Homo sapiens: one gene and its partners. The protein of the gene in region 4 purifies or fractionates together with the protein of the main gene of each other region. This does not show direct contact. Each region holds a gene or a part of one and is shown on either strand. Other genes may lie near its edges. The genes, in order: YTHDF1, FREM2, TCF25 and CTSG.

Region 1 (7,600 bases), on a different chromosome or scaffold from region 4:
GGTCTCGAACTCCCAACCTCAGGTGATCCACCCGCCTCGGCCTCCCAAAGTGCTGGAATTACAGGCATGAGCCACAGCGCCTGGCCCCAGAATCATCTTTTAAAATGCACTAACTGCTGTTTCCCCGTAATATAAATTTGAGATTCTGGGGGTATAAGAAGACAAGTGGGATGCTATCAGTGTTCCACAAACATGAGATTAATCTGAGCTTATTCTCCCTCAAAACAGTTTCCATGATGCTGGCTCCTTTGCTGCAGCCTTTCCCTCGGGTGCTGCCCTGGCCAACAGGCCCAGACTGGGGGGGTGAGCGAATCAGGGGGGCGGTCTGTGCACAGGACTTGCTCCTCGAGTCACTGGCCGCAGGTGCCTTCAAGGACGGCAGGCAAGGGGACAGTCCCCCCCACAGGGAAGCCAGCCCTCCTCCTCCCATTAGCTGGACACGTGCTCCTCAGCAGCGCTGCAATCACAACACATCTTCCTTCCACGCAAAAAGAGCAGATGGGAAAAAAAGACCTCGATGGCTGTGTGGTATTCTAATCCACTTGGCCCCAACACCAACCAGAGGAGTCAGGCCACAGAAACAGATGCCCAGGGACACTTCTGACTTACACCTAAAGCCTTAACTAAGACAGGACATCACTTACCACATGAAAAAATCCACATTACATGAGGCATGTAACATTCCTGAAAATCCGTTTTAAGTATTAAATGGACACACCTAGCACACACGCTGCACAGACAGAGAGCCCATAAATGACCCATCCAGCTTCCCTCTACCCAAGGTGCAGGGCCTGCAGTTCTAGCCAGTACTCTGCAAATCCTTCAGCTCCAGATCACCACCATTCACATCCTGAGCCACAGAAGACGGTGACGCTAATCAGCTCTGCTGGCAGCCCTAAACCCTCCTGATACTTTCTGTGCTCACCGGGTTCCACGGCCACACAGGCAGGCTGGATACAGTGACCTGGGGTTCTGTGGGCCGGATTTCCATTTTTACCTCAATCTCACTGACAGCCCATTTCCTATTACATCTGCCATCTTTCCTCCAAAACTCTGAAGGTAAAGAAGCAGGTTAATTTGTAAAGCTATGTGAAGTCAGTCATTCTGTACATAAGAAAACCTGGAGATGCTGTCCTCTGCCTTCTTTATGAGCCACATGTCAGGCTGCTGCCCCACACTCCTTCCCTGGTGAGGGAAGCTGTCCCATTCACAGTCCTGGTCACAGTGCGTGGGAGACAACTGGAAACGCACAGTTCGGGCTGCCTGGAAAACACATGCAGCCTCCTTTCAGGGCCTTTGATCTCCCTTTGTCTCCCGCACAGCCAGGCACAGGTTCAGCGCTCACTCGCTGCCAAGTGCTGGAGGCGAGCTGTGCTGCTCCCTCAACATTCCTTAGTGCCACGGCTCCATGGGCACTGAGTTATGAGTGTGAAAGTTTACTTCTCAGGGATACAGCTGCATTAACCCCGGGCACGGTGACTCATGCCTGTAATCCCAGCACTTTGGGAGGCTGAGGTGGACGGATCACAAGGTCAGGAGATCAAGACCATCCTGGCTAACACTGTAAAACCCCCCTCTCTACTAAAAACACAAAAAATTAGCCGGGCGTGGTGGTGGGTGCCTGTAGTCCCAGCTACTCAGGAGGCTGAGGCAGGAGAATGGCGTGAACCCGGGAGGCGGAGCTTGCAGTGAGCCGAGATCGAGCCACTGCACTCCAGCCTGGGTGACAGAGCAAGACTCTGTCCCCCCCACCCCCCTCCAAAAAAAAGAACAAATTCAAAGCTTGTTCTTAACACATTACTACCTCTGAGCAAGCATATTTTGGTCCTCGTAAATGAGTGGCATAAACAGATCTTTTAAGGACAATACAAGCAAAACCATGATCCTGTTACTCTGCAGCCGCCTCCACAGAAGACTGCTGAACACTTCCACATGCTAGGCGCCTCACTGCAGCCCCTGCGGAGAACTGACGACCTCATCGAAGAAAGGCTAACACATTTTTAGCCGGGCACAGTGGCTCTGGCCTGTAATCCCAGCACTTTGGGAGGCCGAGGCAGGTGAATCACAAGGTCAGGAGTTCGAGACTAGTCTGATCAATATGGTTAAACCCCGTCTCTACTAAACCGGGTATGGTGGCAGGCACCTGTAGTCCCAGCTACTCCGGAGCCTGAGGCAGGAGAATCGCTTGAACCTGGGAGGTGAAGGCTGCCATGAGCCAAGATCACGCCACTGCACTCCAGCCTGGGTGACAGAGTGAGACTCCGTCTCAAAAAAAAAAAAACAAAAACAAACAAAAAAGAACTAAGAGCAGTTTTACATATTTACTCAAATTTAACCACATTAAAAAAAAGAAACTTCCATCCGAATGACCAGAACCATTTAAGTTGAAGTTCAATGGTTAAGTTTACTTCCTATATCCATTTTTCTGAGATGGAGTTGGAATGACCAAAAGGAGAGACTAGAGGGAGAAGCAGAAAGGATCCCTTCAGAAGCCCAAGAGGAACAGAGAGAAGCATTTGCTTAATAAAAACAAACAAACAAAACAAAATAATTAATTATGTAAAATGGAAAAGTATTAAGGGTACTGCTGAAAAGTGAGGGAGTGATATGGCTCCTGGGAAGCAGCTCTGACCCAGGACTGGGAACAGGCCTACCAGGATGACCTGTTCTTCAGGAGAAGCCTTAGGGAGCACAGAGAAAATGTTAGAGGAAAATAACCGAAAAACCCTAATTTACTTACTTGGCTGCTCACTTTTCAGATCTGTTTTCAGGACTGGTCCCTCTGAGGCTGCAATTTCAGCCCCTCAGCTGGTGGCATCAATATGCAGAGACAGCAGTTTCTGACAGAATTTCTGCATTTGTTTCAGCAACTTGCCAGTAAGAAGCACGTTAAGATCCCACTATGTCCTTCCAGCTGCGTTTCTGGGAAGCCGTTGTGATGGCAAATGCCTACTTAGCAGGCGCTGCCACTGGGTATTTTAAGGAAGCCCATATTTTTAGATGCAGCCACAAGAAACTGACACTCCCCTGCTGGCCCTCAGGTCACCCCGGGCCCACCAGAGCTGCCCAGGCACAGCAGGAAGCCCTGTGCCAAGCATCTCCAGGCTGTTCTCAAAGAAGTCCTAGATGCTCTGATGAGGCATTGTGTTCAGTGAAAAAAAACCACCCAAAACCTGATGAGCAATTTCGTCACTGTGTGATCAGTGTCCTCACACAAACAGAGACGTGTGAGCATGGAGGCAGTATCCTTACCACACACTGAGGCCGTAACCTGTACAGTGTGTAACTGTACTGAATAATGGAAGTAACTGTACATCAATGATAAGTATCTGTGTGTCTAAACATTATCTAAACACAGAAAAGGTACAGTAAAAATACGGTATAAGAAATCAAGAACGGGACACCTGTACAGAGCACTTACGGTGAATGGAGCAGGTAGGCCTGAGTTGCACTGGGTGAGTCAGGGAGAGAATGTGAAGGCCTGGGCCCTCACTGGACACCACTGTCACCTTTAGAAACACCGTCCACTTAACACTACACTCAATTTTTAAATTTTCCTTTCTTCAATAATAAACCCTAGCCTACTATGGCTTTTTTACTTTACAAACTACTTTTTTAAAAGCTTTAAGGTTTTTGACTCTTTTGTAAACACAAATATATCATATAGCTGTACAAAAATTTTTTTTGTTATATCCTTATTCCATAAGCTTTTTTCTATTAAATTTTTTTTAACTTTTTGAACTTTTTTGTTATAAATGAAGACACGGCCAGGCACAGTGGCTCATGCCTATAATCCCAGCCCTCTGGGAGGCCGAGGCAGGAGGACTGCTTCAGCCCAGGATTTCGAGAACAGCCCAGGCAACACAGTGAGACCCCATCTCTACAAAAAATCAAAAATAAGGCAGGAAGATCACTTGGGCCCAGGAGGTCAAGGCTGCAATGAGTCATGACTGCACTTCCGCCCAGGTGAGGGAGAGACCCTGCCTCAAAACAAAACAAAACAAAAAAACCAAAAACCCAAAAAGACACAAAAAACACATATTAGCCTAGGCCTACACAGGGTCTGGATCTTCCACCTCCACATCTTGCCCCACTGGAAGGTATTCAGGGGCAACAACACACATGGAGCTGTCATCTCCTGTCACACCAATTGCCTTCTTCTGGATTCCTCCTGAAGAACCTGCCTGAGGCTGCTTTACAGTTGACTTTGTTTCTAGTAAGTAGGCAGAATATGCTCTTAAAAGTATAGCAAATACACAAAGTAGTAACAGTCGTTTATCATCAATTATTACGTACTGTATGGTACTGTACGTAACTGTAGGTGTATACTCTGGTATGACTGGGGCAGTAGGTTTGGTCACACCTACTGCAGCACCACAGACACGAGTAATACACTGCCCTCAACATGGTAGCTCCAACGTCACCAGGTGCCAGGAATTTTTCAGCACCATCATAGTCTTATGGGACCACTATCATATTGTGGTCTGTTGCTGACCAAACTGCATCCGGCAGCACAGGTACAGGCATGCCCAGATGGCCTTGGTAATTTCTGTCAGTGGGATCACAGCAAACACACTCAGTCTGTTGGTCAGGGAGTGTGCAGGAAGCCTGGGGGGCCAGCGGCATCTATTCCCAACTCAGGCATCATGCCAAGACAGTGTCTTCTAAACTCTGAGTAGGAACTGTTCTGGGTCATTTCACAGTCTTTCCTTTCAGAAAACAACAGAGAACTGGGAAACCAGAAGTCCCCGAGCAGGAAAAGCCTCAAAAGAGAGAATCGGCGGGGCACTGTGGCTCATGCTTGTAATCCCAGCACTGTGGGAGGCTGAGGCAGGGGGATCACCAGAGGTCGGGAGTTCGAGACCAGCCTGACCAACATGGAGAAACCCCGTCCCTACTAAAAATACCAAAAAAAATTAGCCAGGCGTGGTGGCGCGTGCCTGTAATCCCAGCTACTCGGGAGGCTGAGGCAGGAGAATCACTTGAGCCAGGGAGGTGGAGGCTGCAGTGAGCTGAGATCGCGCCACTGCACTCCATCCTGGGCAACAAGAGCGAAACTCCATCTCAAAAAACAAAAAAAGAGAGAAAATCACAACAATCAAGCCCAACCCAGAGCCCTTCACTCCCAGTTCCTCTGCTCCCCCAACTCCCATTCAAGTCACAGACTAGAAGACAGATACTGAGCGGCTACAGTCGCAAGCGCCTCAGGGGCAACTAGGACTGAAACTCTAGCACCAGAAGCACAGCAAGGCGGGTGAGGCCTCTCTGAGGGAAGGACCCCCACCACACGGCAACAACCCCTCACAGCCCATTACAAGTTAAACCAACCTAACAGGCAGGCATTCTCCTAAGACTTTCTAAACCATTCTAAGTATGACAGTTTCACACAAAACACGGTAGCCTCCAACTGGCTACTACAAACCATATCTAGATTTTTCTCTTTTAAGTACCCAGGGTTAGGTTGGGCACTAGTGGCTCATGCCTATAATCCTAGCACTTTGGGAGGCTGATGCGTGTGGATTGCTTGAGCCCATGAGTTCAAGACCAGCCTGGGCAACACAGCAATATTTCATGTCTACTAAAAATTTAAAAATTAGCTGGGCGTGGTGGCACATGCCTGTAGTCCTAGCTACTTGGGAGGTTGAGGTGGGAGAATCACCTGAGCCTGGGAAGTCGAGGCTGCAGTGAGCCATGATCACATCATGCACTCCAGCCTGGGCAATGGAGTGAGACCCTGTCTCCAACAAAAAAGGACCCAGAGCTATTGATATGCCCACTATCTTAACTGTGGCCATGGCTCCAAAGGTATGTCTGTGTAAATCAAAAGTTATAAAACCATACTGTATACTCTACATATGGAGCTAAGACACCCACTGACATAAAAATAATCGATTTGTAAAGAAATCCTCCCAAACAACACAAAAGCTCCGACTTTATAAAAATATTTTTGGCTGGGCACAGTGGCTCATACCTGTAATCCTAGCACTTTGGGAGGCCAAAGCAGGAAGATCACTTGAGCCCAGAAGTTCAAGACTAGCCTGAGCAACACAAAGAGACCCTGTGTCTACAACCAACCAATCAATCAATCACCAGGTGTAGTGGTGCATGCCTGTAGTCCCAGCTATTCAGGAGGCTGAGGCAGGAGGATTGCTTAAGCCCAGGAATTTGAGGCTACAGTGAGCTATAATCATGCCCCTGAACTCTAGCTTGGGTAACAGCAGGACCCTGTCTCCAAAATACACACACACACACACACACACACACACACACACACACACACACACACTTTTAAGTGTACTGATGCAACCTCCCTCCCCCTTTATTGGCTAAAATTCAGTACATAATACCATTAAAGTACTAAAATAATAAGAACACACTAGAAAACAAGAAATTCAAAAAATTAGTTAACTTCCTGCCATTACCTCTATCCAAAGGCCCATCACTAAAGTCAAGTCAGTTCTGCCCAGAGGAAGGGCAGATTCTCAGAAGGCAACCAAGAGACAAGAAACAGAAGCAGGGTCGGAGCGCGGGGCAGCGCTGCCGAGGCTCCACCTGTACAAGGTTTCTTGGTCTCTAAGCTGCTTGATTCGCCAAGTGCAGTAGGAGGGAGGGGGATGAAGGAACATTCTAAGAAGTTCTAAGACACCTCAGAAAAGGGCAGACTAGTTTTATTCCTTCACAGAGAAGAGGTGAAGCCTGGTTTTACTTTAAAGTAAACATGCCCAGTAGCTGAGGGCTACTTGGAGTGGCGGAGGAAGGAATGTGAATCACAGCACACGAAATGGAGCACTCAGAGCATCTGCTTTGTGCTGCCCCATGAGGCCTGCTCACCAAAGTGAGGAGCTCACAGAGGTGCAGCCCCTCATCCAAGCCAACGGCCTGGAGGTAGGAAAGTGAGGCAGGGGAAGTCTGATTCCCGAGTTGGACTCTTAGACATAAACAGATACCGCTTCTCTTGGGAGTTTTGCTGCAACAGCAGCACAGAGGAGAGAGAGCAGCTCCCAGTAGATTTTAACCAGGGCAACTGTATCCCCCAAAAAACATCCACCAAGACAGTTTTGCTTGCTACAACTGGGGATGGGGAGAAGGAGTTGCTAATGGCATCTAGTGGGTGGGAAGCCAGGGAGGCTGCTAAACATCCAACAATGCACAGGACAGCCCCCAAAACAGAATGTTCCCGTGCAAAATGTCCACAGTGCCAAGGCAGAGAAAGCCTGAATTACCTAAGAAAACAGGGCAGCTATGACTCACTGGGCCCTGCTGTATCAGGTACTGTCTCAGCGCTTTATGTGCACCATCTGATGTCATCCTCCCAACAATTCTACAAACAGTTACTACTCTCTCTCTTCTACAGAAAAGGAAATTGAGGCAAGAGAAGGCAAGCCATGGACACAGGCCAGTCAGTGGTGGAGTTAAAATTGAAACCAGGCTGGGCGCGGTGCCTCACGCCTATAATCCCAGCACTCTGGGAGGCCGAGGCGGGTGGATCACCTGAGGTCAGGAGTTTGAGACCAGCCTGGCCAACATGGTGAAACCCCGTCTCTACTAAAAATACAAAAATTAGCTAGACGTGGTAGTGGGTGCCTGCAATTCCAGCTAC
Region 2 (7,600 bases), on a different chromosome or scaffold from region 4:
ACTTTCCTTACTGCTTAAAGGACAAAGCTCAGCCAGAGACACAAGCGACCAGTTTTGGAAATGTCCTATTTAATGCCAAACTAGCAGTGGATGACCCTGAAGCCATTCTCTTAGTGAATCAGCCTGGATCTGATGGATTTAAAGTCGACTCAACACCACTCTTTCAGGTAGGCCAAAAACAAGCTCATTTGTAGTAGTTGTGTACCCACATGCAAGTTATGGAACATTTATATGCCTCAGATGTCTCATATGTAAATAGCAGTAATAGTAATATTGCATACAGTTAATGGGAACATTGAATAAGATATGGCAAATAAACTACATAACCCTATGCTGGGCATATGGTGAGCACTCCATAAACCCAGCGTTTATTATTTTTGTTAGCAATATATCTGGCTTTCATAGCTCTTATCACTTTTATTAATGTATTAATATTATTTTAAGACTATGTGTAATGAAGAGTCTTATTTAGCCCAGAATATAAATCTGTGTCTGACAGTTGAGTAATCTGCTTTTCTTATTCAAAACTTCCTTCCTGCTGACTTTTCACCAATATCTTAATTAGAGTGATCTTGTGTGAACTGCTGAACTCAGGAAAGCAATTGTGCACAGCTCCACTCTCAAAGATTTCAGAAACCAAGATACAAATTCCTGACTCAGGGATCAAAGGTGGAGGGAAACACAGGCAGCTGCCACAACACTGAGCAAATGCCACAAATTTCAAGAGGTGCTTACACTGCAAATCTCTGCCGAAGCAAGTGCGGCTTTTAGGATATTTACTGAAAATTAACCCGACAGGATGGCCTGGAGAAATGTGTTATTTTCATTCAACCTAAGGAAGGATCTTAAGAAAGCATGTTTGTTATTCTCAATCTTTTCAAACAAGAAGTTGAAGTATGATATGTTTTATTTTTATTTTTGCCATTAAATCTCAAAGCATCTGACCTTCCTAAATCTTGCATGCTTCAAAGACTCATCAGAAAATTCATCCTTTTCCAAAGCCCCAGAAAAGCTTGAAAATTGATTTTTTCCCCCTATGGTCTTATATGCAATAAGCAGCAAGACACAGTGAAAAGAGTCCTGGGGTTCAGAAGATTTGAGCTGTAGTCCTGCCTCTGCCACTAACTGGTTGAGTAACATTGGGCAACTCACTTAACTGCTGCATATTCTAATTTACTCATTTTTTTAGTGAATAAGCTAGACTGTATAATCTATTAATAGTTCTTTAGAACTCTCTCATTCTATGACAACAAGTATCACATATTCACTCCCTTAAGAGTTGCACAGGATATATCACAGAGTGCTTTGCACAGAGCCTTGCACCTAGTACTCATTCAAAAATATTAAGTAAGTTAATTCTGCAGACTAAAATCATTTATTAATATCTCTGCCATTAATTTCTCTTGCAAAGAGTCGTGGATTAGATTGACATGGTATCTAGTATTTCCTAATAAATAGAGTTGTGCTTTCTAGGTCGCTCTAGGCCGAGAATGGTATATACATACGATCTATACAGTGAGATCGAAAGACAATGCCAATCGAGGTATTGGCAAAAGAAGTGTGGAGTACCATTCTCTGGTGAGTCAAGGAAAGCCCCAATCCACCACCAAGAGCCGGAAGAAGAGAGAGATCAGGAGCACACCCTCACTGGCATGGGAGATTGGTGCTGAAAACAGTCGAGGAACAAACATCCAGCACATTGCCCTGGACCGCACCAAGAGGCAGATCCCCCATGGGAGAGCACCTCCAGATGGCATCCTCCCCTGGGAGCTCAACAGCCCCAGCTCTGCAGTCAGCCTGGTCACTGTGGTGGGAGGCACCACGGTAGGGTTACTCACCATCTGCCTCACTGTCATTGCAGTGCTGATGTGCAGGGGCAAGGAAAGTTTCAGGGGGAAGGATGCCCCGAAAGGCTCCAGCAGCAGTGAGCCCATGGTGCCCCCACAGAGCCATCACAATGACAGCTCAGAAGTTTGATGACTGCAGGTAGAATTCAACCTTTTCCGTAAGTGCCTCGGAAAAGATCACAATGGAACCTTAAATACTTCTGGTAAACCATAGAGAATGGAGGATGGCTGTGATGAAGCTGCTTAGAGAATATGACTGTACTAATGGAGTTTGATTTGAATTCTCCATACTCTTTTTTGCATCAAAGGACAAATTAAGGCATCTTTCCTCTTGCCCCAAAGGCAGCAACAACGTACTCATATGTACACAGAGCCATGATGTGAGGAATGTACTCCTCATTTTAGACATATTCTCTATGCAGTGGAGATAAATCTATTAAAAGGTGCTAACAGACTCTCTTACAAGTGTAAGAGGAATCTACTGTTGCTATGTTAGTGTGAATGTTGAAGGTGCAATTATCACATTGTTTATTAATTGTATAACAGATTATTACTAGAAAGGTTTTTGTTGCTAGTCTGGAAAACTGGTGAACACACTGTTTATTATGACAAGTTTTCAAATAGGTGAAGACAGCATAGAATTATGACCAGGGTGGCTCAACCCACAAATCAACTGATCTACTACTTGGGAGACAGTGGAAGGAAAGATAGAGGGAAGGAAGTTCACTCACTTGAATTTGAATTGCTTCTCATTCTCATCAGACTCTCCTTGTTTTGTTTGCATATTTAATTTTAAATTAAACCAAAGAATATGTTAATTCTGAAAGAGATTTTTAAGAGATGCTGCTCTGTTTTGGCATATAGTGAGTAATGGTAGAGCTCTTGCATGGTAATATACCTTATTGGTGCTCAACATTTGTGGGAAATTAGAGGGTTGGTGAGATTTTGGTGATGAATAAATGCCATAGAGTTAGAGTCACTACAAGACAATGTTCTCTAAGAACTGAGCCTAGATGTTTGCAGTATTGAACCCATAAATGATAATAAGAAACATTGTTACAGATGGTGAAGGGAGAAAGTGGTATTTATTAATATAATGTGTATAATCAGAGTGCCTCTTATACATACTTTATAGAATAAAGGAACATTTTGACAGATGAGGTTATCCCTCGGAGTAGCGTAATCACACAATAACATTTAGAACTTAAATTGGCTACAGGACATTTTATTAGCTTTCTATCCAGCATCTGGTCCAAACGATGGGACTCTCTGCAACTATCATTCCAGAAATGGTCTTGGAGGTGGCCAGAATCATTGACCATATTTTTATTTGGTTCAAGAAGACATCGCTCTGGCATCCCCAGTTCAGTGAACTGGTACAATGTGGTCCCTCTCAATATTTAAAAATATAATTTGTAACAGTGCTTACCATTCACCTCCCAAAGCCAAGGAACTTGAGTGAGCTTCCTTGGCAAGCCTCCCATTGCCTTTCTGCATCAATGTGTTTGTTACCAAATAGCAGAAATTTCGCTTAGAAGGGGAAAACTTCAGCTTTCCAAAAGCTAGTAAACATGTTTCAAAGAAAAATAAGGTCAGGAGAAAAAGAATAATGCCTACAGATTATCCTTCAGATGCTGGCTAGAATCCCCTTTGACTTCTAGCCATAAGCTGGCCACATTGGACATCTTGGTCACTGCAGAATTTTAAAAGGCAAACTTCTCAGAACAGATGTGCACATCTTAATTTGGTGTCTGTAAGTATCAACCATTTCTTGATCAAGATAAGGAAGCAACACTGATACTGAGAGAGAGGTCATATGTCCAATAGTTGCCTTTCTTCTCTTAGGCAGCTCTGCACTTCATGTTCAGTTTTTTAAAAATAGACTGTAGTATCCTTTCATTGGAGAATTTACAAAAATATCATCTACAGCTCAAAAGTCCCACTAACGGCTTATATGAACAGAAAGTACTGTGTAGCCCAGGAGTTTATTTAGCAAGATAAATAGTGGTAATTTCTTAATCATTCCCCTTTCCTTTGCTTTACCTTCTGGCAGATGCTTAGCTACTTCTTTGGCTACCTCATAATTTGTATGGGAATGAACATGAATTAGGGAACTTCAAATAGTGCGTAGACTTTTCCCTACTTACCATTGGGTTCAATTGATGTAGACTGTTAGAGCAAGTATACTCAATCAACTTGCTGATATTTTAGTAGTTAACAGCTTCCGAGCCTATCATGCAATTTGGAGTCTGTCAATGAATATAGCAATCGGTGAAGCATTACTGTACGAAGTCTGTTTTCAGGCTTTGGGTCAAGCTGGTTTTATACCAAATTTCACTCTACAATGCATATTCTAATGAAGCTACTTTATATAAATTGGAGAGCTTATAAAATGCAGAACATTTCTATCCTATCCTACCAAATATTTATCCTTCTCTGTCCTCTATTCTCTTACTCTCCTCTCTCCCTTTTTCCTTCCCTTTATTCCCTTGAAAAAAGAGAATCTGTGGGAAATAGGCAGATATAGCTTTTTAAAATATAAAGTACTTGGGATTTTGCATTATTTTTCTTAATATCTATTTACTAAGTATGTAATTTAATATACATTAATTATTTTTTGAAACTCTTGTTAGTGGGAAGAATATGGTAAATTTTTTGTTAAATAAAATAGACCCTTATGTTTAGCATTTTGTTTTTAGAGAACTATTCTGGTACTATCAGAACAAATACATAAAATAACTTCCCATAGAGAACAGGATATAGCAATAATAGCTCCTTAGATACTCAGTGGCTTCTGACTCCAATCAAGGTCTTGTTGATATTATATAGTAAAAATAAAACCAAAAATAAATATTATTCAAGTGGCTCTTCTAAGCATGTGAATCATGAAGCACTGAAATATGTATTTTAATGATGATCTTATTTATTCCCATTTTTGCCCTTAGTTAACATTTACTGGTGCTCACCTAGGATTGGCTATTCTGAGGGATTGCATAGAAACCAAGCTCCACTTGCTGTCCTTGGGAAGGTTATAACTGAATGCAGCTCTTTATTTGGACTAAAGTGTCAGGATATGCATTAGATTCTCTCCTGAACCAAAAACACAACAGTCATTATCTGTGAACCATAATTTAAAAATCTTTCTAGAATAACAACAGCAGACTCCACTCTTGTTTGTCTAAAAGAGCCCTACTGGGTATGGATCATTCTGATGACAGATTTATACAAAATGATTCAAACCAGTAACTTAGTAAAATTGACCTTCGCAAAACCTCACTGGGGGAGTGCCTTGTAGAGCTGTGGGTGGGACTGCACATTCTTTTCCTCTTAGTAAAAGATAGGCCCACTTTATTCCAAGAATAACACTTAGCACATAAACTCTTCTTCCAGCTCGTTAGCAGCATTAGCACCTTCTGAATTCCACCCTCTCAGAAGAATCCACAGTGTTTGAACAATTTGCATAAAGGTCAGCTAGCATCCTGCTGCCAAGCCACTGCATAGCATTTGTGATAAGAAGGACCAACTCTAGGCTCAATATGAAGGGATTTAGTTCTGTAAGCAGCAAAAAAGCTTCTTTATCAAGTCATCTTACCTCTAATTCTTTTCCAGTGTGCCAACTCCAAAGTCAACATTAAAAATGTAAATGGACCTGTGTAAATATCACAGAGAGCTTTTCCTTATACATCTCAATGCTGAGAGTTAAAATATTCCCAGGTTAAAATTTTTTTAAAGTACCAATAATAGAGCTAAATACAATGACATTTGCTTTTAAAAGGTGGATATTTTATTTCTGCTTTTTGAAAATACTTATTTAGTATTGACTTGGAAGCCAATTTGGTCCTTTAATAAGTAAAGAAAATAATATGTTTAAAAATGTAAATGTTTTACAAATTTGAAACTTTCATAATTGTATTAATCAGAAAACAAGCACATTGCCATTCTTTGAAACTCATGTTTCTAGACATGACAGCAGTAATAAAAGGATGAAAACAAGTGTCTTCACTAAGCGTATGGCCAATAAATGGGACCCAAACGTTCAATCTGTTCAGTTTACCAAGGTTCAGAAATACGTAATTTAGCAGGAAACTATAAATACCAGTGCTATCACAGCCACACATACACACACACAGACATAAAATAACCAAACATCTCATTTCTAGGAAAGAGATAACACTAAAGGCATCATAGGTTTAACTGAAATACGTTATATGAAGTTTTACAAAAAGGTCAACAGAAAGCTCATTTGTGAAAACATACTCTCATGGGAGCTTCTTTAACATTAGTTCAGAGGTTAATATATTTCCTGGAGGTGTTTTCCTAGAATTGATTGCACTATTGCATGGTAATAACATTTAATTGTTAAGGAAACATTATATATAGGTTCAAATTATCCCTTAATGTTGATTTCTCCCCTTTTCCATGGATTTTGATACTAAGAAACAAAATGCTTTGAGATTTTGGTAACTATTTTGATTTTGATAAAACATGTTAAAATAGAAGGACATGATATTTTTCTATAGTTTCCATCAGGAAGAGTACATCAGAAACTTCTCCATAAGGAAAGAAAACTGACTCTCTCTTGAACTAGTGTTGACAAAATACACTAATGTCTTTCTTAATTTTATTTTATTAGGAGAAAAATCAGAATATTAAATTTGCAAACTTTTGAACAGCAGTAATAGCTCCTTAGACACTCAGTATCTTTCTTCCCTATCTTTCAAGCACATTTAATTTCTTTCCCCTGGTATTTGTTTGCTTTGTGTTTTTTCAATATTTTGTTTGCTAAAGAACAATAACAACAACAAAGCTGGTCCAGCCCTGACACCTACTTTTGCTTTTTTTCTTTCTTTCTTTTAATTTGTTGAACTATAGGTTTCTTTCTGAGATGTATTTTTCATTCTTCCAATAATGCTCTCTTTTTCATTTCAAAACCATTACCACTTTCAATATGTAATTAACATCCTCATTCATCAGAAAGCTGGTAAGTCCACACAGCATTTGTGCAGTATCCCTTCTGTGTAAAATGTTAAGGCTTTCAGATGAAAGAAAAAAGAACTTCCTGCAAAAGATCAAAAGCATCATACTAAATAAAATGATGACAATATGTGCCTTGATTTTTCTCTCAATGGAGGTTCAACATTGACATTTAAGATGTAAAAAAAATTACTTTGATGGTTTAATTAAGAATAATAAGTCAAATATCACATGTATGTAGTTCTTTTGGATGACCGAATACCTTAAAATGAACTAAATAACTGAAATAAAGTGTTAAAATGTTAACAGCGTTGAAGTTTTTAAAATTATAATTATCAAATGCACAATGTTCTTTTACTATGCCAAATGTTGCCTACACTGATTACATGATTGTCACAGTTTAAGTGAATTTCTACTATGGATCTTTATTTTCCCCAATGTTTGGATCATCCTCTCAGATAAGAATTGTCAGTATTGCACCTCAAGAAAGAAGAAAAAATAAGAATGTAAATTTTTAAAAGCTAGCATTAAAAGTAAAGAGCAGTACAATAAAAATCACTTAAAATAGAGAAAGGCAACTACTGAGTAAGAAGAAAAGATAATTTCTGTAAAAGCTAAATTTATGCACATTACAAAAAGTAGTCAAGTCAGTCTTCCATTGTGACTTCAGGAATTCAAATGCAAGTTGTTGGCAAAATATATATATACACACACACACACATACACACACATATATGTACATACATATATATATAGAGAGAGAGAGATAGATTTTTTTT
Region 3 (7,600 bases), on a different chromosome or scaffold from region 4:
TTAGGAAGCAGGACTGACGTCACAGAAATGTGAAAATGCACCCAGGGCGGGTCCATCTGCGTGCACACAGGGCGAGCCCTGGAGGGCCAGGGGATGACCCCAAGGCGTGCACTTTCTCCTGTGTTTGCTCCCTCTTTGTTTATTTTGTTTTTTGAGACGGGGTCTCACCATCACCCAGGCTGGAGTGCAGCAGCACAAACACAGCTCACTGTACCTTTGACCTCCCAGGCACAAGCCGGCCTCCCAAAAAGCTGAGATTACAGGCATGTGCCGCCACGCCTGGCACCCTCTTTATATGAGCCTCGTTTTTAAGCTGGAGGCTGCTCAGCTGTCCCACCTGGACTTTTCCACACAGATGAGGGCTCCAGAGCCGTCCCATGTCAAATGACAGTCCCCGAGGCCGCCACCACAGCCCCTCCTGCTGCTGGAAGCAGGTCCCTCAGGGCCTCTCAGGATGAGTGAAAATGGCTCCCAGGCTCCGAACCCACAGGCACCCACAGATGGGCACCACCAGCCACTCTTTACCTTATTTCAGCATTGGGTCCAAAGAAGCGGTGACTGGAAACGCTGGCGTCGGGCCGCACACTGCAAGACTCGAGCAGGGGCAGGAGGACTGCAGGGGAAGCGGAGGCTCTGTGGGGGCCCTCAGCACACACCCCAGCCACTCCTAGCCCCCAAGGCAGTAAGGGACACAGCGAGGTCCTTGTCACAGACACAGCTGTTCTAAGGTGGAGAGTCTGCAGGGCCAGCGGCTTGCTTCCGGGTGGTATTCTGAGTTGCTGCTGCTGGCGTGCCCAGGGTCTGAGGCTGGGGGTCTCCTTCACACCAGCCCCAAGGAGGCTGCCAGGGCCCCCATTTGCATCCAAGGGAAGACTCACCCACCACCCTCCACACACATGGGGTTGGGTTTTTTTTTGTTTTTCTGAGACAGGGTCTCACTCTGTTGCTCAGGCTGGAGTGCGTTGGCGAAATCTCGGCTCACTGCAACCTCCACCTCCCAGGCTCAAGCGATTCTCCTGCCTCAGCCTCCCGAGTAGCTGGGATCACAGGCGCACACTACCACGCCCCGGTTAATTTTTGTATGTTTAGTAGAGACAGGGTTTCACCATGCTGGCCAGGCTGGTCTTGAACTCTTGACCTCAGGTGATCCACCTGCCTCAGCCTCCGAAAGTGCTGGGATTACAGGCGTCCGCCACCACACCCGGCTAATTTTTATATTTTTGGTAGAGAAAGGGTTTCACCGTGTTGACCAGGCTGGTCTCGAACTCCTATGCTCAAGCGATCCTCCTGCCTCGGCCTCCCAAAGTGCTGGGATTACAGGCGTGAGCCACCGTGCCCGGCCGGTTGGATGTTTTAATCACAAAGACTGGACCCCATGGCAGGCTGGTGGGAGCGGAGGCCACCTGTGCCCAGTGGAAGAGCCAGCACTGCAGGTTGAGGGCAGAGGCCGCCATGTAGGGGAACGGGCCCCGAGGGCAGAGCCTGCAGTGATCTCCAGTGTTCTGGGGTAAGTGGCAGCGGCTTCTTGGCAGCCCACCTGCCTTCAAGGGAGGTGCTGACGCTACAGCCTGTGACACAGCAGCACAGCTCTGCCACAAAGGACAGGGCCTCCCAGCCGCGTTTCCAGACACGGCTGCACTGGTGGAGCATATGGCCAGCTGCATGCAGCCCCAGAGGAGGACAAAGGTGCTTCTTAGACACAGGGGACGAAACTTTTGGGGTCAGCGAGCAGACTGAGGCCTGGCCAGGCCCCTCTGGGGGGCACGTTTCTGCCTGTGCTAGAAGCTGCCCAACCCCACGCCGTGGGCCTCCTCGGGGCCCAGACAGAGCCCTGGAAACCCACAGAACCGAGAAAGGGATGCTGCTTCCAGGACATCCTAATAGGCGATGAGTGGTCACGTAATGTGTGTATACTAGCTGCACGCAAATAACCCTCACCCCTCACCGCCCCTCGGAGGAGGCCCGTCTTAAGGAGGGATTTCACCCTCACCCCTCACAGCCCCTCGGAGGAGGCCCGTCTTTTTTTTTTTTTCTTTTTTTTTGAGACGGAGTCTCGCTATGTTGCCCAGGCTGGAGTGCAGTGGCGCGATCTCGGCTCACTGCAAGCTCTGCCTCCTGGGTTCATGCCATTCTCCTGCCTCAGCCTCCCAAGTAGCTGGGACTACAGGTGCCGGCCAACACGCCCGGCTAATTTTTTGTATTTTTAGTAGAGACGTGGTTTCACCGTGTTAGTCAGGATGGTCTCGATCTCCTGACCTCGTGATCCGCCCACCTCGGCCTCCCAAAGTGCTAGGATTACAGGCGTGAGCCACCGCGCCCGGCCGGAGGCCCGTCTTAAGGAGGGATTTCACCCTCACCCCTCACAGCCCCTCGGAGGAGGCCCATCTTAAGGAGGGATTTCACCCTCACCCCTCACAGCCCCTCGGAGGAGGCCCGTCTTAAGGAGGGATTTCACCCTCACCCCTCACAGCCCCTCGGAGGAGGCCCGTCTTTTTTTTTTTTTTCTTTTTTTTTGAGACGGAGTCTCACTATGTTGCCCAGGCTGGAGTGCAGTGGCGCGATCTCGGCTCACTGCAAGCTCTGCCTCCTGGGTTCATGCCATTCTCCTGCCTCAGCCTCCCAAGTAGCTGGGACTACAGGTGCCCGCCAACACGCCCGGCTAATTTTTTGTATTTTTAGTAGAGACGTGGTTTCACCGTGTTAGTCAGGATGGTCTCGATCTCCTGACCTCGTGATCCGCCCACCTCGGCCTCCCAAAGTGCTAGGATTACAGGCGTGAGCCACCGCGCCCGGCCGGAGGCCCGTCTTAAGGAGGGATTTCACCCTCACCCCTCACAGCCCCTCGGAGGAGGCCCATCTTAAGGAGGGATTTCACCCTCACCCCTCACAGCCCCTCGGAGGAGGCCCGTCTTAAGGAGGGATTTCACCCTCACCCCTCACAGCCCCTCGGAGGAGGCCCGTCTTTTTTTTTTTTTTCTTTTTTTTTGAGACGGAGTCTCACTATGTTGCCCAGGCTGGAGTGCAGTGGCGCGATCTCGGCTCACTGCAAGCTCTGCCTCCTGGGTTCATGCCATTCTCCTGCCTCAGCCTCCCAAGTAGCTGGGACTACAGGTGCCCGCCAACACGCCCGGCTAATTTTTTGTATTTTTAGTAGAGACGTGGTTTCACCGTGTTAGTCAGGATGGTCTCGATCTCCTGACCTCGTGATCCGCCCACCTCGGCCTCCCAAAGTGCTAGGATTACAGGCGTGAGCCACCGCGCCCGGCCGGAGGCCCGTCTTAAGGAGGGATTTCACCCTCACCCCTCACAGCCCCTCAGAGGAGGCTCGTCTTAAGGAGGGATTTCACCCTCACCCCTCACAGCTCCTCGGAGGAGGCCCATCTTAAAGAGGGATTTCACACATGCTGTCAGGCAGGGTCAGCCCCGAGGTCTGACCAGGTGGCAGCCTCACTGTGCCCGCCACATGTGCGTGGATCGAAGCTACCCAGATGCAGTCAGGGGTCACGGCTGTGCAGGCTGAGTCCATCTGGGCGGCACAGGCCTCCATTCTGCATCCCAGCATGGTGCAGAGCACAACCCTCTCGGCCACACCTCGGCGCTGCCGAGACCTTCCCCTGCTTTGCTCTCCTCCCCAGCACTGGTACAATCCAATGCCCCGCACCTCCCAGCCAGTTCTGTCTCTGCACTCTAGAACACAGGCCCCACGGGGGTCGGGATGCCTGCCACCTCCTCGTGCCTGGCTTGGCACGCAGCGGGTTCCGAGATGAGCCGACCCTCTTTCAGGTTTGGTAGGGCAGGTTTGCAGGCCCTACCAGAGAATGCATGTTTCTACAAGTGTGGGGAAGGACTGGGACCTGGCCTCCACCACCAGGAAGAGCAGCCCCCACGGCTGACAGGACACACCCCTACCCCAGGCGAGACACAGCGCTCACTCACCTCCAGGGAACATGGTGAGCGCCTGCTGTATCAGGAGAGAGGCCTTCTGCCTGGCAGAGCTCTGCTCACACTCAGGGAGGTCTGTCTGCTGGCTCAGCAGGAAATACGCCAGTGGAACAGAGAAGGCAAAATTAGGGAGCTGGGACAGGTTCCGATGAGCCTACGAGGGACGAAGAAACAGAGCGTGGAGCCTTAAGTCATAAAGACAAAATATGTGAGTTTGCAGACGCTCTGACATCACCAGTGAGCCCTACCCCGAGCAGGTATATTCTGCAGGCAACGCAAGGGCCTCTTCCTAACTCAGCATAAAGATAACTTAAAACGTCCACCTGGGGGGCTTTCCGCATGCAGAAGATACAGAGGACGTGGGAGGGCCTGAGAAGTAGACTGAGCCGGAGCGAGGACACCGTGGGGAGTGAGGGTCCCACCTGCCGCCCAGGCTCCTCTCTGAAGCTGAGCAGTTGGTGCTCTCAATGTGGAAAATTTACAGACGAGAGCAGCCCACCCCCGCGCGAGTCTGTGAGAGCAGCCCACTGCCGCGCGAGTTTCCGAGAGCAGCCCGCCACGCGAGTTTCCGAGCAGTCTACCACCGTGCCAGTTTCTCTTGCCTTTCTCAGCCTATGTCACATATTGTAGACATGTGACTCACTGCATTTTTTTCTATCAAAATGGGATCACAGACTCACAGTTTTGTGACCTTAAACACCATCATCAACATTCTTCTGCAGCCCCATTTTGGGGGACTCCCTGAGGTTTCCCTGCACCTACATTTTTGTGAGCTCCAGGAATTTCTATAAACCACATTCCTGGGGGTGAGACTTCCTGGCCAACTATGCCAAATGCTTAAAAATTCAAAATAATTTACCCACTTTCATTATCCATGAACATGTGCTATGAAAAAAATTCAACACAGAAGCAGAGAAAGTCAAGAGCTGTCGCCTTCTCCCCAGCCCCAGGCCCTGCTGGAGGTTAGCGTTACAAAGCCCGTGTCCTTCCAGATAAGTGCTGCCCCATAGGAACATAATGGGAGCCCAGGTGTCAATTTAAATTTTCTTTTTTTTTTTTTGAGACGGAGTTTCACTCTGGTTGCCCAGACTGGAGTGCAATGGCGCGATCTCGGCTCACCGCAACCTCCACCTCCCAGGTTCAAGCGATTCTCCTGCCTCAGCCTCCCGAGTAGCTGGGATTACAGGCATGCACCACCACGCCCAGCTAATTTTGTATTTTTAGTAGAGACAGGGTTTCTCCATGTTGAGGCTGGTATCAAACTCCTGACCTCAGGTGATCCGCCCGCCTCGGCCTCCCAAAGTGCTGGGATTACAGGCGTGAGCCACCATGCCCGGCCCAATTTAAATTTTCTGGGAGCTGCATTAAAGACAAAACAGGTGAGATTAATACGTTATATCTAACCCAATACACCGAAATTATCATTCCAACACGTGTCTGTGTTAGAGTTACTGGGGACAGAGCTCAAGTCTCTCCTGCTGTACTCACACTCTTCCCATGGAACAGGACAGACGTGCTGGGGGTCCCTGTGTCAGCCCCACGCAACCAACCCTCCTTCTACCTCCCGGCTGCATCTTCCTGAACTGCCCATGAGGAGCTCGGGAGTTGTCGGTTTTTCATCATTACCAGCATCACAGTCCTTGCAGGCACACGTGTGCATGTGTACACACGTTTGAGCATGTGTACACACGTATGAGGATTCTGACATAAGGCTGCTGTACTGTCCCTAGGAAAACCACATTCCACTCCGTAGAGGCGGCAAGGGAGACAAACAAGGCAGGAGGACGTGGTTCTGCCCTCAGACGATTATCGTTTCATCCCCAAACGTCCCCTGAGCGCACAGATACTGAACCAAGAAAACAGAAGGAGAAGCAGGTGTCCGTCCCTCCACGGGGCCTCACCAGGCTCGCACCCACCTCCCACTCCTGGAAGAGGCGGATCAGGTACTCGTAGTTCCGGGCCCGCAAGGCCAGGTGGTCGATGAGCAGCAGCATGCAGAGGGGGTCCTCATCCGGCTCGAGACTTCCGGAGGCAGCACAGAGAGCAGAGCAAAGGGGAACAGGGGCATCGTCAGGCTGAGAGTGGGCCTGCAGCCAGGACAGGGAGCGTGGACGGGCTTGGCCCTGAGCAGACACTCACCTCAGGATGAGCTTGCAGTACTCCAGCGCCGTGCGCGGGCAGCCTCGCTTCTCCAGGAAGCTCATCTGCTTGTAGAGGGCCAGGTAGAAGCTCCTAGATCCAAAATAGTTCCACATGAATTACAACGACACAAAGGAGAATGCTCTCTGCTCAGCGCCCCGGCCAGCACCCACTCCACCCCGCCCTCTGCTCAGCGTCCTGGCCAGTACCACCCATTCCACCCCACACACTGCTCAGCGCCCCAGTCAACACCCGCTCCACCCCACACACTGCTCAGCGCCCCAGTCAACACCCGCTCCACCCCACACACTGCTCAGCGCCCCAGTCAGCACCCGCTCCACCCCACACACTGCTTAGCGCCCCGGTCAGCACCCGCTCCACCCCCATTCTGCTCTCTGGGTTCTGCTGGCATTTTCTACGTGCCCAGCACACAGAGATCCATGTCTGGAGAGGAGGTGTGCGCTCTCCTTGTCCTTTACAGAGTTATACACGAATTTGCATACTGAAAATCAAACTTCTTTGAAATCTTTTTTTTTTTTTTGAGACGGAGTCTCGCTCTGTCACCCAGGCTGGAGTGCAGTGGCGCTATCTCGGCTCGGCTCATTGCAAGCTCCGCCTCCTGGGTTCATGCCATTCTCCTGCCTCAGCCTCTCCAAGTAGCTGAGACTACAGGCACCCGCCACCACACCCAGCTGATTTTTTGTATTTTTAGTAGAGACGGGGTTTCACCGTGGTCTCGATCTCCTGATCTTGTGATCCACCTGCCTCGGTCTCCCAAAGTGCTGAGATTACAAGCGTGAGCCACCACGCCCCGCTGAAATCTTTATCTTGTTTTTTTGTTTATTATTTATCATTTACAGGAAGAGAGTTAAAATCTCTTGTTACAATTACGATCTTAATTTATCCTCCAATCTCAACAGTGGCTAACAGCACTCAGGCTGGATACATGGAGCCCTGTGACTTTCGGATGCTGGTGGGCTGCTACTTCCATCAACAGCCCACTGTCTCTTTCGCGTCGGGAAATATTAATATTTTATAATCTACTTCAAAGAACTAAGAATTTCATTGGAAGAGACAAAACTAACATAAAGAAAACCAGTGGAGGAAATTCAGACCCAGCACACAGTGCAGACAATCTGTGCAGAACGGGTCAGCGGACCTTGGCTTGCCAGGAGGGCTGAGAGGGTAGGAGCGGATCCCACACTGCAGACAACCCAGGGCGGCCAGAGAAACAGGGCACTGCACACAGGAGAGGCAGGACAGCGGACAGAAGCTGGTCTGCTCCACAAAGGGCCCACAGGACAGGCTGCGGGAAGGCCTGGCGGAAGCCAGTCTAGGTCTGACCAGCGAGGCCTGATGCCAGAGGGATGGCTTTAGGGGCAGAAGTATCTGAAAGAAGAGAGACCTCCACATGCGGTCGCTCAGCACAGGGGAGCGAGGGTCAGGCTGACTCTGAGCTCCTCACTGATTTAAGGTCAAACCTGCAAAGCCTTCCAAAGCTTCTAAACTTGCCAGGGAT
Region 4 (8,511 bases):
AATGGTGTCTTGCTCTGTCGCTCAGGCTGGAGTGCATGGTTCACTGAAGCCTCAACCTCGTGGGTTCAACTAATCCTTCCACTTTAGCCTCCCAAGTAGCTGGGACTATAGACACATGCCACCATGCCTGGCTAATTTTAAAATTTTTGTGTAGAGACAGTGTTTCCCTATGTTTCCCAGACCTAATCCCCAATGTGATGGCATTAGGTGGGGCCTTTGGGATGTGATTAGGTCGTAAAAGCTGAGCTCTTTGAATGAGACTAGGTCCCTTGTAAAAGAGACATCAGAGAATTCCCTTGCCCCTTTTGCCATATGTGGACACAGGGAGAGGATGGTTGTCTGTGAACCAGAAAATGGGCCCTAATTAGACACTGAATCTGCTAGTGACTTGATCTTAGACTTCTTAGCCTCTAGACCTGTGAGAAATAAATTTGTTATTTATAAGCCACCCAATTTGTGCTATTTTGTTGTAGCAATCCAAACAAACTAAGTACTGAATGACGTTTAATGAACAAATGAGGAATTGGTTATTTATACTCTGTGGACGTTTATTAAGGCTCTGGCAACACTGTGGAGCTGGCCTGTGTCCCCGAGAAGAAGAGTCAGTCACAGGGGGGTCTCCATCTGATCCAGCAGTTTGAAGCTTCTCATTGTTGTCCTTATCCAGGGCAGGAAACTTGAGACCCTGGTGAAGACTTCTGGAGGAACCCCTGACGACTTTCCATAGGAGACGATGCCGTGGGCCACATTGTTACACAGCAGGGGGCCTCCGGAATCCCCCTGTAGGTAGAGAGGAGAAGGGAGACTGAGACAGGCCTCCCTGCTCCTGCTTCCCTGAGCTCCGGGCTCTCAGGGAAGGCAGGGGTGGGTGGGCCCCTTCAATTGCTGGGTGTGTGTGAGATGGAAGATCGGTGGGGTACAGGAGCCAAGCCTCTGGATCTTTTCGGTCGCTGGACTTCAGCTCTGCCTTAATTACTGTCTCCAGCCCAATCTGAGTCAAGGTACCTCTCCCTTCTCCAGGAGAATGTTGCCTATGTATGTGTTGTGGGTCTTCCTCCTATTCCCCCAGAGACCAGGTTGATGGGGAAAACAATCCCCAGCCCACCCTGGTCTGGCTGCCAGGCTGAGGCTGTGGGGATGGAATCTGTTCGCACTGCCTGGCTCTGCACGGGCCCCTCTCTCCCGGGGTGTGTTGGCCAATGCCCATGCCTTACCTTGAAGGCAGCCTTCCGTTCCCGCCGGTCCCCCACACAAATCTGCCTTCGGGGGTCGTAGGAACCGAAGATGCGGAGGCACTGCCTATCCCTCTGCACTCTCAGCTGCACCTCTCGGAGTGTATCTGTTCCCCTCCTCATGCTGACCCTGCCCCAGCCGGCCACAGTGCACAGCGTCCCGGGTCTCAGTCCCTCCTGGGCTCTAGGCAGAGCCACTGGGTTCACGTTTCGATTCCGTCTGACTCTTCTGCTCAGCTGGAGGAAGAATGTAGGCGTTCCCGCTCAGCTGGGGCCTCCAGCCAAGGCTCGGGGGTCGCTGGTGCAGTACACATCCCATGCCCTCCCCGCCACCCCGGAGCCTTGCCCTCACTTCCTCCTCCATTGTCCCCGGACACACTAGGAAGGAGCCAGAGGGCCAGGTAGGTGGTACCTGCAATAACATGATGTCATTCTGGATGGTCCGCTGATTATATTGAGGGTGGCGGATGGCTCTGCGCGCAGTGATGTGTTGCTGGGTGTTTTCCCGTCTCTGGATATTGTGGGCGCCCAGGGTGACATTTATATTGCTGCAAAAGCAAGAGGTAGGTCTGGGCTGCAGGAGCTATGGTCCACCAGCTCTGCAGGGTAGGCAGACAGCACGGGGAGGGCAAGACTGCAGCTAACCAGAATCGAGGGGATGGGAGGGCCCTGGGGCTCAGCTGTATCCTCTTTCTCAGCAGCTCTGAGCTAGGGATGACAGGGTGGTACTTGCCTTCAGGTTTGCTTCCCCAGATTAAGTTGATAAATAGCCTGAGTTTATATTTTGAGCCCCAATATGTGTCTTCCATCTCTTCCTCTTGCTCTTTTTGATCTTATCCTCCTTTCCTCCTCATTTACACTGGCCTGTTCCCTCCCGCAAAGACTCACTTGGTCTTTCTTTCACCCTTTCATTGCTACAACTCTTCTTTCAGATGGCTCTTCCACCGAAGAGCTCCGCAGGGCTGTGTTCCTGGCTGGCCAGGAAGTTCCTTAGCTCCTCACCTTCCCCAGCAATGAGCTGCTGTCAGCACAAAGTCTTCTCGCACCAGGAACCCTCCACATCTGCTCTGACCTGCTGGACTCTGGATCTGAAGATACGCCATGTAGGGGCGGGAGTGGGGCCTGCTCTCCCGGCCTCCGATGATCTCCCCTGGAAGGAAGCATTTGGCACTTAGCTCTATGCTTGCTGAACCTGCAATGTGGGTACCAGATTGGTGGCTCCAGAAAGGCTGGAAGATGGGGACGGCAGGAGAGAGGGTGCAGGAGAGGGAGGAGATGGTGCTGAGGCTTGGAGTCTATGGGGCAGCAGATTGGGAGGGGGCTCCAGGGTTCTACAGGAAACACTGCTGTCTTGAAAGGAGCCCTTTTCCCCATCCTAGGCCTCACCTCCCTCCTCCTCTCCAAAAGAGGGAGAACAACCCTTGTTCCAGGCAAGGCCAGCTTCAGCCTCAGGTATTGAGGAGAATGCTTTGCTGTAAGTACAGGATTGTTCCTGAAGTTCCCTTATACTTTTATCCTCATGGAGCTTCCCAGAGCCCTCTGAGTCCAATTCAAGACCACGTGGGACTGGTGTTTAAAAATCTAGACATGAGCTGATGGTACTGTTATTGCTGTATTCTTACCTCCTAGGTAGGGTCTGACACATGCTGCCAAATTATTTACACAAAGCATGTTTTTATAGCACTTATAGTGTGCGGGCAATTCCAAGACATTTAAATACTCTAACTTATTTAACTCTCATGGCAACTCTGCAAGATCGGTATTAATATTATTCTCATTTTATAGATGAGGAAACACAAATTCAAATAACTTGCTCAACAGTACAGAATTAGGATATACCAAGGCAATTTGGCTCAAGAATCTATGGGATGAGGTCAGGCCTCTGAGGGTGGGGATGGTCACTCACCTGCCTCAGCCCCAGTGGGTAGGAGAAAGGCCAGCAGAAGCAGGAGTGGCTGCATCTTTCCTGAAAGGCTGCCCAGTCAGTTGCTGCTGTGCTTCCTCCTCCTAGACTTTAAGGCCCTGAGAGAGGAAGGAAGGGGTGGGGACAGGGGATTGAGAATTCACAGTCCCATTCTCCTGCTACCATGAAAGGTTTCATCACCCAAGGCTGCTCAGGAAGTTTGCCCACAAACTGCCGGAGATGTGGGTGAGACCGTGTAATCCAAGCCAACATAGTGAGCTCTTGAGCAGCTGCTAAGTCAGTGCCGAGAGCAGAAATAGGAACCCAGCACAACAAGGAAGGGGCTTGGGGCATTGTGTCCAGAACCCTCAACCCATCAAATTCCAGAATACTCCAGCAAAGCAAGAAAGCTGGCAGCTGCCCACTTCCTGTTTTCTACTCCTCTGGGATTAGATCATTATTGCTTTTGAATTTCTGGGTTTCTCCTAATGAATGCAAGTTCCCTGGATTGCTTATCTGTATATACTTAATAAGTCTGGGACAAGGATGAATGAAAGGGTGTGGTGTGGTGAGGGATGTGGGTAAGAACATCAGGAAAAAGTTGAAGGGGGCAGAAGAGGAAAGGGTAAGCCTGCCTGCTTTCAGTGTTTGGCCCAAGACCACCCTGCTGAGACCCCTGTTGCTCTAATTTCTTTCTAGAAGCTGTCAAGTCAGATTGCGTAGGCACTCTCCTGAGTAGGTGAAGCGTGCGGCTGGAGAAAGAAAAGGAAGAACAAGGCTCTGACAATCACAATTACTTTCTTAGGTCACTTGAGTCCTCAGTGAAAATTGTGACACAATTGAAGACTTCTGCTTGCCTGTCTCCTACCCAAGGTTAAAGTCCTTATGTTCCAGACGGCTCCTTGCTTGCAGAAAAGGCTTAGTAATTTGGTTTTATTGGGAGCTGTCGTATCCTAGCTGGAAAATATCTAATATCCCATTTCACTGGTGACATTAGAGGCCCATCAACCTAATCCCAGGAGCAAAAGCTTCTGAGAAGGAGGTACATTCATTGCTGTGCTACCTATAAAAGAATTAGAGCCGCATACTCAACAATGGGAGAAAAGAACAGCAAATTACTGCAGAGTAACACAATGGATTATTAAAAACACTTAAAATATTTAGAAGATTCTGTGTATGCACAGAAAACCGTTATAATCCAGTATAATTTTTGCAGAAATAGCAGAATTGAAGACTAATACAATTCCCAATCTCTTTTTTTCTGTCTTTTATTTTGAAAATCTTTTACTTAGGTATTTATTTTTAACTTTTATTTTAGGTTTGGGGGTACATGTGAAGGTTTGTTACATAGGTAAACACATGTTACGGGGATTTGTTGTACATATTTATCACCCAGATATTAAGCCCAGCACTCAATAGTTATCTTTTCTGCTCCTCTCCCTCCTCTTACCCCACTGTCTGTTGTTTTCTTCTTTGTGTTCACAGTTCTTATCATTTAGCTCCCACTTATAAGTGAGAACATGTATTATTTGGTTTCCTGCATTAGTTTGCTAACTAACATGTATTATTTGGTTTCCTGCATTAGTTTGCTAATAGCCTCCTGCTCCACCCATGTCCCTGCAAAGGTCATGAGTCCATTCTTTTTTATGACTGCATATGTATATGTACCACAATGTATATGTACCACATTTTCCTTATCTGGTCTATTGACGGGCAGTTAGATTGATTCCGTGTCTTTGCTTTTGTGAATAGTGCTGCCGTGAACATTTGCGTGCATGTGTCTTTATGGTAGAATGATTTATATTCCTCTGGGTAAATATCCAGTGATGGGATTGCTGGATCGAATGGTAGTTCTGCTTTTAGCTCTTTGAAGAATCACCATACTGCTTTCCACAATGGTTGAACTGCTCCCACCAACAGTGTATAAGTGTTCTCTTTTGTCTGCAACTTTGCCAGCATCTGTTATTTTTTGGCTGTTTAGTAATAGCCATTCTGATTGGTGTGAGATACAATTCCCAGTCTTTATGGAGTATAATAGGCCCTCTTGAAAATCTCATGAAAATTAGGGTTCCTTTCCTTATACATAAATATATAATTTTTTCACTTATTTTTAGAGCTGCACAGAGCTTAACCTCTTCTCTTGTACAGGCTCTATAAAACGTCTTTATGCATCTGAAAAGTAACGTGAAGAAGAAGGGAGCAAAGAGAGAATAGTATAGCACCTTTATTAGTGCCTTAGCATTTGGCATAATTTAATTTATTAAAAATTTTCAACATTTTGTTTTGTTTTAAAAATGTTAGTTTAACTTAAAAATAGAAGAAAGGGATAAAGAAAAACCTGCACATATGAAAAAAAAGGAGTAAAATATATGCATTCACTCATGTAATAAAGATTGATTAGGAAATTTCATTAATAGTGACCTAGAATTTCATGCAATCTTCTCATTAAAAGTAATCAAAGCTATTTAAGATATCTAAAAAGCTTACAAACCTCGAAGAACTACCAGCATTGAAGTGACTATCAGATCAAGTTGAAGGAATAATGAGAGTCTAGTTAGGAAGCTGCTATTGTTCCAAGGGAATGTGCTGAATCCACAAAATTTCAACTTTTGTTTTTGATGACCACATTAAGGAGAAATCTGTAGAAAATATTTAAAGTATGCTATATAGTTTCTTCTGAAGAACGGATGCTACCCTTCCCTTTATGGGACTAGCATAACCTCCATGCCAAACCCAATAGAGACAATATAGAAATGAAACATTATAGGTCAATAAACTTTTGAATATTGATGCAAACCAAATCAATCAATAAGCAAATAGATATTAATATATCATAAGTAATTTGGGTTTATTCTAGGAACACATAGTTGACTTTTCATTTGAAAAGCAAAATTGCTGTAACACATCATATGAACTGACTAAAGAAGAAACATCATGTGATTATTTAATTGAAACAATGAAGGCCTAAAATTTACCCTTATTTACTTAAAAAATACTCTTAGCAGACTAGGAATAAAAAGAGTGTCTTTAATCTGATAGAAGTTATCACAAAATTCCCACAGCAATCATTATACCTAATGGAAAAGTGTTAAAACCTTTTTTTGAGAGCAAAACATTACAATAATGCCTGAATACAAATTATTATCAGTTCTGTTCAACAAACAGTACATTAGCAGTTTTAGCCAGTGCAGTTAGGTAGGAAATGGAAATGAAAGGTATAAAGACAGGAAAAGAGAAAACAAAATTGTAATGATTTGAGGAAGTGATAGTATACGTAGACAATCCAAAATCATCTACAGGTAAATTACCATAATTAATAAGAGTTTTACAGATTTGCTAGAAAAAATCAATTTAAAAATTAATCATATTTCTACATGTACTGCAACACTGTTAGAAAGAAATTTTTAGAAAGTAATACTTAAATGGCATGGAAATGATCAAATAACTAAATGTAAATCTAAAAGAATATGTGAAAGACCTCTTTGGTGAAAATTATAAAACTGAATGAAGAGACATTCAAGAAGACCTAAACATGAAGAGATTCCATGTTCATAGATTGGAAGAAGACTAAATATTGTAAAAATGTCAGCTCTCCCAAAATTGATCTATATAGATTCATTGCACCGAGCGGTATTTTATAGAACTTAACTGATTGTAAGTATATTTGGAAAACAAAAGGCTAATGATAGCCAGGTCACCATTAGAGAATGAGAATAAGATGGAAGACTTGCTTTTGCAAACAAAGCCATGGGAATGAAGATAGCGTGGTATTGATGAGGCATAGAAACATGGACTAATGGACCAGAAATAAGGACTCCACACGCATGTGGACGCTGACATACACATGGATGGATTGATTTATGATGGATGTTGCATCTTTCATCATAATAGGGAAAAGACTATTTTCTTTTTTTATCCCCAATAAATGGTACTGGGATAATAAATTGCCTTTATGGTGTCCTATAGAGACAAATATTTTCTATGTGGAAAAATAAAACTTGACCTTCTTCTCCCAAAATATCAAAAAACCTATTCTAGGTAGATTATGGATCCAAGTAGGAATAATGATTTGAATATATAATGGAAGAATATCTTCATGATAGGTAAAGATTTTAGTACTGTATATAAAGTACTAATAATGAAGAAAAGGACTGATGAATTTGACACATCTAAATTGAGAGAAACAAAAGACCATTCATGGAGTAGGCAAAGATGCTTGAAATACACATAAACAACAAAGGGCTTATATTCAAATTACATAAAGAACTCAGAAATCTGGCCAGGTGCAGTGGCTCACCCATGTCCCAGCACTTTGGGAGACCGAGGCGGGTCGATCACTTGAGGTCAGGAGTTGGAGACCAGCCTGACCAACATGGTGAAAACCTGTCTCTACTAGGAACATACACAAAAAAATTAGCCAGGATGGTGGCACATACTTGTAACTTCAGCTACTCGGAAGGCTGAGGCAGGAGAATCGCTTGGGGAACTGGGGAGGCTGAGGTTGCTGTAAGTGGAGATTGCCTCACTGGGCAACAAAGTGAGACTCTCAAAACAAAACAAAACAAAAACTTGCAATGAAGAAGACAATTAACTTAATAAAACAATAGCCAAAAGACTTGAACAGTTTTATCTCAAAACAGGAAATCGAAGTGGTCAATAAACATGAAAAAGTGTTACTCTGACTAGATATTAGAGAAGCACCCATTTGAAGCACAATGAAGGCCACGTATGGTGGCTCATGCCTGTAATCCCAGCACTTTGGGAGGCCAAGGTGAGGGGATCACTTGAGCCCAAGAGTTCGAGACTGTGTGTGATGGCATGTGCCTGTAGTCCCAGCTACTTGGAAGGCTGAAGTGGGAGTTGAGGCTGCAGTGAGCCATGATTGTGCCATTGCATTCCAGCCTGGGTGACAAGACAAGACCCTGTCTCAAGGAAAGAAAAAAGAAAAAAGTGCAATAACAGTTGCAGCTACCATGTTGGCTCTTTTCCCAATCCTAGGTATATACCCTAGAGAAACATCGGGTGCAAATTTCTACCAGATACATGTCCAAGAAGGTCATAGCAGCATGTTCAAGATAGCCTCAAACTGGAAACACTTCGAAGGTCCACTAACAGCAGCATGAATAATCAAATTGTAGTATATTCATATAATGGAATATTGCATAGCCATAAAAATAAAACTCTTCCTTCATGCAGCTATGCAAATGAATCTTACAAGCATAAGTTAAAAGAACCCAAGAAGACAACTTTAATTTTATTTATATAAAGTTCAAAACTAGGCAAAATGAAACTATACTGGATAGAAATACATACATACATATACATATATATACATATATATGTATATATGTATATATGTATATATATACATGTACC

Evidence for each region.
Region 1: the proteins of CTSG (region 4) and YTHDF1 purify together in Homo sapiens (affinity purification with mass spectrometry; 3 studies listed by BioGRID and IntAct, with this or other methods). This does not show direct contact.
Region 2: the proteins of CTSG (region 4) and FREM2 purify together in Homo sapiens (affinity purification with mass spectrometry; 2 studies listed by BioGRID and IntAct, with this or other methods). This does not show direct contact.
Region 3: the proteins of CTSG (region 4) and TCF25 purify together in Homo sapiens (affinity purification with mass spectrometry; 4 studies listed by BioGRID and IntAct, with this or other methods). This does not show direct contact.

What each region holds. Positions count from the first base shown.
Region 1 is NC_000020.11:63,205,723-63,213,322, forward strand, and holds part of YTHDF1 (YTH domain-containing family protein 1), read right to left. Parts: intron 1-7,600.
Region 2 is NC_000013.11:38,878,811-38,886,410, forward strand, and holds part of FREM2 (FRAS1-related extracellular matrix protein 2 precursor), read left to right. Parts: intron 1-20; coding exon 21-167; intron 168-1,473; coding exon 1,474-1,977; 3' UTR 1,978-7,600. UniProt on the Homo sapiens protein: Extracellular matrix protein required for maintenance of the integrity of the skin epithelium and for maintenance of renal epithelia. Required for epidermal adhesion. Involved in the development of eyelids and the anterior segment of the eyeballs.
Region 3 is NC_000016.10:89,897,131-89,904,730, reverse strand, and holds part of TCF25 (ribosome quality control complex subunit TCF25), read right to left. Parts: intron 6,175-7,600; coding exon 6,082-6,174; intron 5,965-6,081; coding exon 5,859-5,964; intron 4,097-5,858; coding exon 3,937-4,096; intron 614-3,936; coding exon 526-613; intron 1-525. UniProt on the Homo sapiens protein: Component of the ribosome quality control complex (RQC), a ribosome-associated complex that mediates ubiquitination and extraction of incompletely synthesized nascent chains for proteasomal degradation.
Region 4 is NC_000014.9:24,573,031-24,581,541, forward strand, and holds CTSG (cathepsin G preproprotein), read right to left. Parts: upstream 3,221-8,511; 5' UTR 3,194-3,220; coding exon 3,139-3,193; intron 2,425-3,138; coding exon of another isoform or gene 2,383-2,424; coding exon 2,235-2,382; intron 1,781-2,234; coding exon 1,645-1,780; intron 1,470-1,644; coding exon 1,215-1,469; intron 781-1,214; coding exon 607-780; 3' UTR 488-606; downstream 1-487. UniProt on the Homo sapiens protein: Serine protease with trypsin- and chymotrypsin-like specificity. Also displays antibacterial activity against Gram-negative and Gram-positive bacteria independent of its protease activity.